2 linked regions of the Homo sapiens genome follow. The protein of the gene in region 1 interacts with the protein of each later gene in a pairwise test. Each region holds a gene or a part of one and is shown in the gene's direction. Other genes may lie near its edges.

Region 1 (3,932 bases):
GTTAGGCCAGTGTCTTCATAGAACCTCCTGTCCAGCGAGCCCGGAGCCCGCTCTGCCGCCGGGACACTGCTGGCAACGACGGCGCGCGGACGCAGTCAACAGGGAGGTGTGTAGTGTAAGGTGTGTGAGCGGGTGTGTGAAGAGGGCAGCGGGGGCGGGAGTGTGTAGCGGAAGTGGAGCGAGTGTGAGTGTGTGTGTATGTGTGTCTGGAGGGGCAGGGTGAGTGTCCAAGCTTCCATCTGGACGCCCCCACGCAGCCGACCGCCCAGACGCGCCGGGAAGGGCGCCCGCTCCGCGCAGCAGCTGAAGGGGGGCGGGGAGCGCGCGGGCAGAGGAAGGAGGGTGTCTCCGGCTGAGGATTTCTCTCGAAGCTCCCCACAGTAATTCTGCTCCTCCTAGGGTTTACCCTCCCAGTCCCAAGGTGCCCAAAATACTTAAACAAACAAACAACCCAAACCTGTTCCGTTTTCGCTCCTGTATAAATAGAACAGACTTTCCAAAAAAGCAATACGCATTCACTCTTATCACCAGCCACTTCTTTCCACCAAGTAATTCAGAAAAAAGCAGTCAGCTTCCGTGAATGCATGTAGCTTTTTTTTTCTTCGCTGCCTCCTTTTGCTTGCGGTTTTGAGCTGCCAAGAAAGTGAGTAGGGGTTTGACTGTAGTGTCTCGGCTCCGCTCGGTTTCTTTCCGAAGTTTAATTTTCCGGAATGGCTCCCAAACAAGGGCTAGGGAGGCGGAGCCGCCGGCACCGGATCTTCGCCTTTTTTGGAAAGTCCCAGAGAACCGGAATTCCTCCCCGCCCCGGGAGGCTGAGCCGCAGCCTGGAGCAGCTCGCTCTCCTGCTGTGGCTGTGACTGGGTCCATGGCGCGCCCTCTCCCCCGCGATCCCTGCGCCCCGGACCCAGGCTGCAGCTAGGGCCGCGCGCCCGGGACCCCAGCGATCCCCGCCGCCTGCGAGCTGGAAGTCGCGAGCCCGGCGGAGTCCGCGCGGCCGAGCCCGTGTATGCAAATCAGCCATGTGACGGCAAAAGCCGCCTGGCCCAGCCCTGTTCCTCAGTCCATATATGGGCAGCGACGTCACGGGTATTGAAGACCTGCCCATAAATACTTAGAGCAACACTTTCCGTCTAACTGAGCGAGGAGCAATTGATTAATAGCTCGGCGAGGGGACTCACTGACTGTTATAATAACACTACACCAGCAACTCCTGGCTTCCCAGCAGCCGGAACACAGACAGGAGAGAGTCAGTGGCAAATAGACATTTTTCTTATTTCTTAAAAAACAGCAACTTGTTTGCTACTTTTATTTCTGTTGATTTTTTTTTCTTGGTGTGTGTGGTGGTTGTTTTTAAGTGTGGAGGGCAAAAGGAGATACCATCCCAGGCTCAGTCCAACCCCTCTCCAAAACGGCTTTTCTGACACTCCAGGTAGCGAGGGAGTTGGGTCTCCAGGTTGTGCGAGGAGCAAATGATGACCGCCAAGGCCGTAGACAAAATCCCAGTAACTCTCAGTGGTTTTGTGCACCAGCTGTCTGACAACATCTACCCGGTGGAGGACCTCGCCGCCACGTCGGTGACCATCTTTCCCAATGCCGAACTGGGAGGCCCCTTTGACCAGATGAACGGAGTGGCCGGAGGTAAGCCGCGTGTCTTCGCAGGCCCGGACCTGCGCGGCCCGGAGGTGGTGGATGGGGTGCAGTGGGTGTGCGGGAATCGCAGGAGAGGATTGGGGCTCCAGGTGGACGGTGCTGACTGCACTGGCTTTGAAGACTGGAAGTGGGTGCAGGAGGAACCTGCGACAGCTGAGACCAGGGCGCGCGGGCAGATGCGCCAGGTCGCCAGCAAACCGGCGTGCGTGCGCCCCGGCGCGCCCAGCCCCGGGCGAGCGCAGGGATGGGGGTGGAAGAGGCGTCCCCCCGGGTTTCGAGGCTTGCGTAGGCCCTCTGGCCGGCAGCACTTCGACCTCCCCTCTCCCGGGGCAGGGGCAAAGTGACGGTAAAGTTCGGGGCTCTCGGGGAGAGCTGCGCGCCTGGAGAGCCGAGCGGCGGAGAAGCGCCAGGGGAAAGCGTCGGTAGCTCCCTCCTGGGCAGAGCCGACCCCGGGAAAATCTCGGAGCGCTCCCTTCTTGCGGCCTGGAGGCGCGCCCCCACCTGCCCGCCGCCCGCGAAGTTGAGGGGGTTAGTAAGGCGGGGGCTCCGGCCGGCGGAGGCAGCGAGTGGGTGGTGGAGGAGGGCGCGCAACGGCGGGAAGCAGCCCCCGGACTGCCGAGGGAGGCCCGCGGGGGCACCGGCGACGCCGGTTTCCTTGGCGATGCTGTGGAAAGTCGTCTCTCGCGGCCCCCGCGCCTTCCTCGAGGCCGGGCCACTGGCCTTGGGCTGAGGCGGGGACGCGCGGCTGTCGGGAAAGGCGGAGAAGATTGGGAGGGCACGGAAACCTACGGACTCCTTCCTCTACATCCCCCATTCGCTCCAGCAGCCCTCGGCTGAAGCGCAGCGGGAGAGGGAGGGAGAAAAAGGCACAAGGCGCCGGGGATGGGGAGCAGCCGGGAAATCACCCACCCCCTTCTCGGGCTCTCCTCTCGGTTTGGCACCATCACGGCACTGACTGGGATAGGTCGATTCTTGGGTGGTGTTTGTCTTGGTGCCTCAGCCGTGGAACCCCCAGGCAAAAAAGAGGGAGAAAAGCTCCGGGCGGATGAGGCTTTTTAAAATATTGTTGTTGCTATTATTGGGTGTTTTTTATTGGGGACTAGAGCCACAGATGGCTGGGGGTGGAGGGGAGTTGGGAAAAGCTCATTCTGCTTTTTTGGAGGTAGTTCTTGAGTTCCATACTGTCAATGGGTTGCCACAGTTGGGCTGGCCTCTTCTTACAGTCTGTGGGCCTCAATTTCCCCACCTTTTGGACTTTGCCACAGCTCTACAGTGCTGAGACTCTCGGCCTTGGAAATGGACCTATGTGAGCGGGGGTGAGAAGGGAGTCCTGGCTGTATTTTCATTGTTCCACCTCCATTCTGCCTTTCCCCTCCCCAGATGGCATGATCAACATTGACATGACTGGAGAGAAGAGGTCGTTGGATCTCCCATATCCCAGCAGCTTTGCTCCCGTCTCTGCACCTAGAAACCAGACCTTCACTTACATGGGCAAGTTCTCCATTGACCCTCAGTACCCTGGTGCCAGCTGCTACCCAGAAGGCATAATCAATATTGTGAGTGCAGGCATCTTGCAAGGGGTCACTTCCCCAGCTTCAACCACAGCCTCATCCAGCGTCACCTCTGCCTCCCCCAACCCACTGGCCACAGGACCCCTGGGTGTGTGCACCATGTCCCAGACCCAGCCTGACCTGGACCACCTGTACTCTCCGCCACCGCCTCCTCCTCCTTATTCTGGCTGTGCAGGAGACCTCTACCAGGACCCTTCTGCGTTCCTGTCAGCAGCCACCACCTCCACCTCTTCCTCTCTGGCCTACCCACCACCTCCTTCCTATCCATCCCCCAAGCCAGCCACGGACCCAGGTCTCTTCCCAATGATCCCAGACTATCCTGGATTCTTTCCATCTCAGTGCCAGAGAGACCTACATGGTACAGCTGGCCCAGACCGTAAGCCCTTTCCCTGCCCACTGGACACCCTGCGGGTGCCCCCTCCACTCACTCCACTCTCTACAATCCGTAACTTTACCCTGGGGGGCCCCAGTGCTGGGGTGACCGGACCAGGGGCCAGTGGAGGCAGCGAGGGACCCCGGCTGCCTGGTAGCAGCTCAGCAGCAGCAGCAGCCGCCGCCGCCGCCGCCTATAACCCACACCACCTGCCACTGCGGCCCATTCTGAGGCCTCGCAAGTACCCCAACAGACCCAGCAAGACGCCGGTGCACGAGAGGCCCTACCCGTGCCCAGCAGAAGGCTGCGACCGGCGGTTCTCCCGCTCTGACGAGCTG
Region 2 (3,500 bases), on another chromosome or scaffold:
AAGAGAAATTGTCTTTGTAACAAATAGAATTGTTTAAACATAGACTTTAAGAATTCATCTTATAGCACTGGCAGACCCTAGTTTTTAAAAGTAAACCTTAATTATATGCTATGATAATGGCTTGGGTGCAAATGTTAGCACGTCTGTTAAGTGTTCCCTGACTCCTAAAGTCATTCTTCCGGAGGATGTGTTATTTAACTAATGCATTAACACTTGAGCCATGGCTCATGCCTGTAATCCCAGCTATCCGGGAGACTGAGGCAGGAGAATTTTGCTTGAGGCCAGGAGTTTGAGACCAGCCTGGGCAACATAGTGAGAACCTGCCTCTAAAAGAAGAGGAAAAAATTAGCTGGGTGTGGTGGTACATACCTGTCATCCCACCTACTTGGGAGGCTGAGGTGGGAGGATTATTTGAGCCCAAGATTGAAGGCTGCAGTTGCGTCACTGCAGGCTTGGTGCAGAGCAAGACCTCACCTCTAAAACACACACACACACACACACACACACACAAAACCCCAAACTAAAACCATTTGAGCTCAGACTTTACTAAATAGGTAAGTGTTTGGGGTATATATTCCAAGCAACAGGAAGCATGGACGAATATAATGTGTTTAGAAAATTGGAAGTGACAGAGGGCAGAAGATTTATTTGGAGGCTTTTATAGTAGTCCAAGTGTTGAATATACTGGAGATAAGAGTAAAGTGGGCCAGGCATGGTGGCTCATACCTGTAATCCTAGCACTTTGGGAGGCCAAGGCAGGAGGATCACTTGAAGTCAGGAGTTCGAGACCAGCCTGGCCAACATGGCGAAACTCCATCTCTACTAAAAATACAAAAATTAGCCGGGTGTGGTGGCACACGCCTGTAGTCCCAGCTACTCAGGAGGCTGAGGCAAGAGAATCGCTTGAACCCGGGAGGCAGAGGTTGCAGTGAGCCAAGATCACGTCACTGTACTCCAGCCTGGGTGACAGATTGAGACTCCATCTCAAAAAAAAAAAAAAAAAAGTAAAATGCCGGTGATATTAATATTTAGAAGTTAGAATTAGCTTTTTGTAAACAGTGAAAGAAGGATGGAAATAAAAATTGATGCCCAGTTGTCTGAATCGAGTGCCTTAATAAGGATAGGTATATCAGTCAGGGTTCTCCAGGGAAATAGACTCAATAAGATATGTTTATATATGTATTTTTAATTGTATACGTATTTTAAGCATTTAGCTTATGATTGCGGAGTTGCTAAGTTCAAAATCTGTAGAGTAAGCAGCAGTCTGTAAACTCAGACAGGACTTGATGTTGCAGTCTTGGGTCTGAAATTTTTGGGGAGACCAGCAGACTGGCAACTCAGGTAGCATTTCTGTGAGTCTGTCTATAAGTCCTGAGTCTTGAGGAAGAGTTCCTCCTCAGTTTTTACTTTTTAGCAAGACCTTCAACTGATTGGATGAAGCCCCTCCACATTATGGAGGGTAATTTCCTTTACTTAAGGTCAACTGATTAGATGTTAATCACGTATAGAAAATACCTTCAGCAATGTATAGACTATTGTTTGCCCAAATAGCTTGGAACCATTGCCTCACCAGGTTGATGTAAAATTTAATGATCACAATGGGGAATATAGGTGCTGAAACATTTCTGTGAATAAAAATACATTCTTTGTTTTGTTTTTTGTTTTTGAGGCGGAGTTTTGCCCTTGTCACCCAGGCTGGAGTGCAATGGTGCGATCTCAGCTCACTGCAACCTCCGCCTTCTGGGTTCAAGTGACTCCTCTTCCTCAGGCTCCCAAGTAGCTGGGATTACAGGTGCCCACCACCATGCCTAGCTAATTTTTGTATTTTTAGTAGAGATGGGGTTTCACCAGGTTGGCCAGGCTGGTCTTGAACTCCTGACCTCAGGTGAGGTGATCCACCTGCCTCGGCCTCCCAAAGTGCTGGAATTACAGGTGTGAGCCACCACGCCTGGACTTTTTTTTTTTTTTTTTTTTCCTGAGACTGAGTTTCGCTCTTGTCACCCAGGCTGGAGTGCAATGGCACAATCTTGGTTCACTGCAACCTCTGCCTCCTGGGTTCAAGCGATTCTCCTGGCTCAGCCTCCTGAGTAGCTGGGACCATAGGTGTGCACCCCTGCGTCCGGCTAATTTTTTTGTATTTTTAATAGAGACAGGGTTTCACCATTTTGGCCAGGCTAGTCTCAAACTCCTGACCTCAGGTGATCCCGCCCACCTCAGCCCTCCAAAGTGCTGGGATTACCGGCATGAACCACCATGCCTGTCCTTTTTTTGTTTTAAAAAACATGCTTAACTGAGGCAACAGTGGGTGGCATTTAGTTAGGGATGCCCAGTAGGCTCATTGAAATGGATTCTGAAATTTAGTTGAGAAAGAAATATCTAGTGGGTCAGTGGTTCAGAAGGAATAAAGTTGAAACCTGGATTCGGATGACATTTCTAGAAAGTGGAAAGCAGAGTTTAAGAATGAAACTCGGGGGATCATATGCAGAAGGAGAGATGTCAGGAGGAAAGTCACAGAAAAAGAGGCTTGATAGCATACCTAAAATTTAATGAGAGAGCGTGGAAAAACAACATTCAATGTGCTTTTTCCTGTTCTTTCAGCAACACCAATCAACACAGAAGATCCACTGATGGAGATTTCTCCTCACCAACAGTCATTTCTGCAACGGACACCAGCTAGGTGTCCTCTAATTTCTGACACTGTCTCCCACAGGTTAAGTGCTCAGTTGCCAAAACGACCCCGTACCATGCCCCCCACCAGTACAGGCCTCTGGACTTCAGCCAGAAGGCTGACTGGCTTTAAGTTGGAGTTCCCACCAACCCTGTCTTTGGGTTTGATTAATTTGCTAGAGCAGTTTACATAACTCAGGGAAACATGTTTACGTGTATGTTATAAAGGATACAGATGAAAAGGTGCCTAGGGCAAAGTATGGAAAAGGGGCACGGAGCTTCTTTGCCCTTCCTGGGTGCGTCACCCTCCAGGATCTGCTACGTGTTCAGCTATCTGGAAGCATTTTGAGCCCAATCCTTTTGGGTTTTTTGGAGACTTCGTTACACAGGCATGATTGATTAAACCACTGGCCACTGGTGATCAACTTGACTGTTAGCCCGTCTCCCGTCTCCAGAGGTTAGGGGATGAGACGGAAGGTTCCAACCCTCTAATCATGCCTTGGTCTTTCTGGTGACCAGCCTCCATACTAAAGCTGCCTAGGGGCTGCCAGCCATCAGTCAATTATTAGCATACAGAAAGACATCATTTTGGAGATTCTTATGATTTTAGGAGTTGTATGCCAGGAAACAGGGTTGAAGACCAAGTATATATTTTGTAATATCACACTTTTAAGAGACACAAATTTGTTATTTTTCTCCACAAACCTGATTCAACTCCCGTGATTCCTATCCAAGAGGGGATAGTGTTGAAAACAAGTCTTTAGTATTATTATTTTTTATCCTATGTACAGTCTTTCCCGAAGCAAGCCTGTATTAACTGACAAATGGAATAA

What was found. Proteins that work in one complex are often made in the same cells at the same time.
Region 2: the proteins of EGR2 (region 1) and RIMKLB interact in a two-hybrid assay, tested with the Homo sapiens proteins (one large-scale study listed by BioGRID and IntAct).

Annotation. Positions count from the first base shown.
Region 1 is NC_000010.11:62,813,567-62,817,498, reverse strand, and holds the start of EGR2 (E3 SUMO-protein ligase EGR2), read left to right. Parts: upstream 1-1,132; 5' UTR 1,133-1,469; coding exon 1,470-1,638; intron 1,639-3,030; coding exon 3,031-3,932. UniProt on the Homo sapiens protein: Sequence-specific DNA-binding transcription factor.
Region 2 is NC_000012.12:8,704,491-8,707,990, forward strand, and holds part of RIMKLB (beta-citrylglutamate synthase B), read left to right. Parts: intron 1-3,500. UniProt on the Homo sapiens protein: Catalyzes the synthesis of beta-citryl-L-glutamate and N-acetyl-L-aspartyl-L-glutamate. Beta-citryl-L-glutamate is synthesized more efficiently than N-acetyl-L-aspartyl-L-glutamate.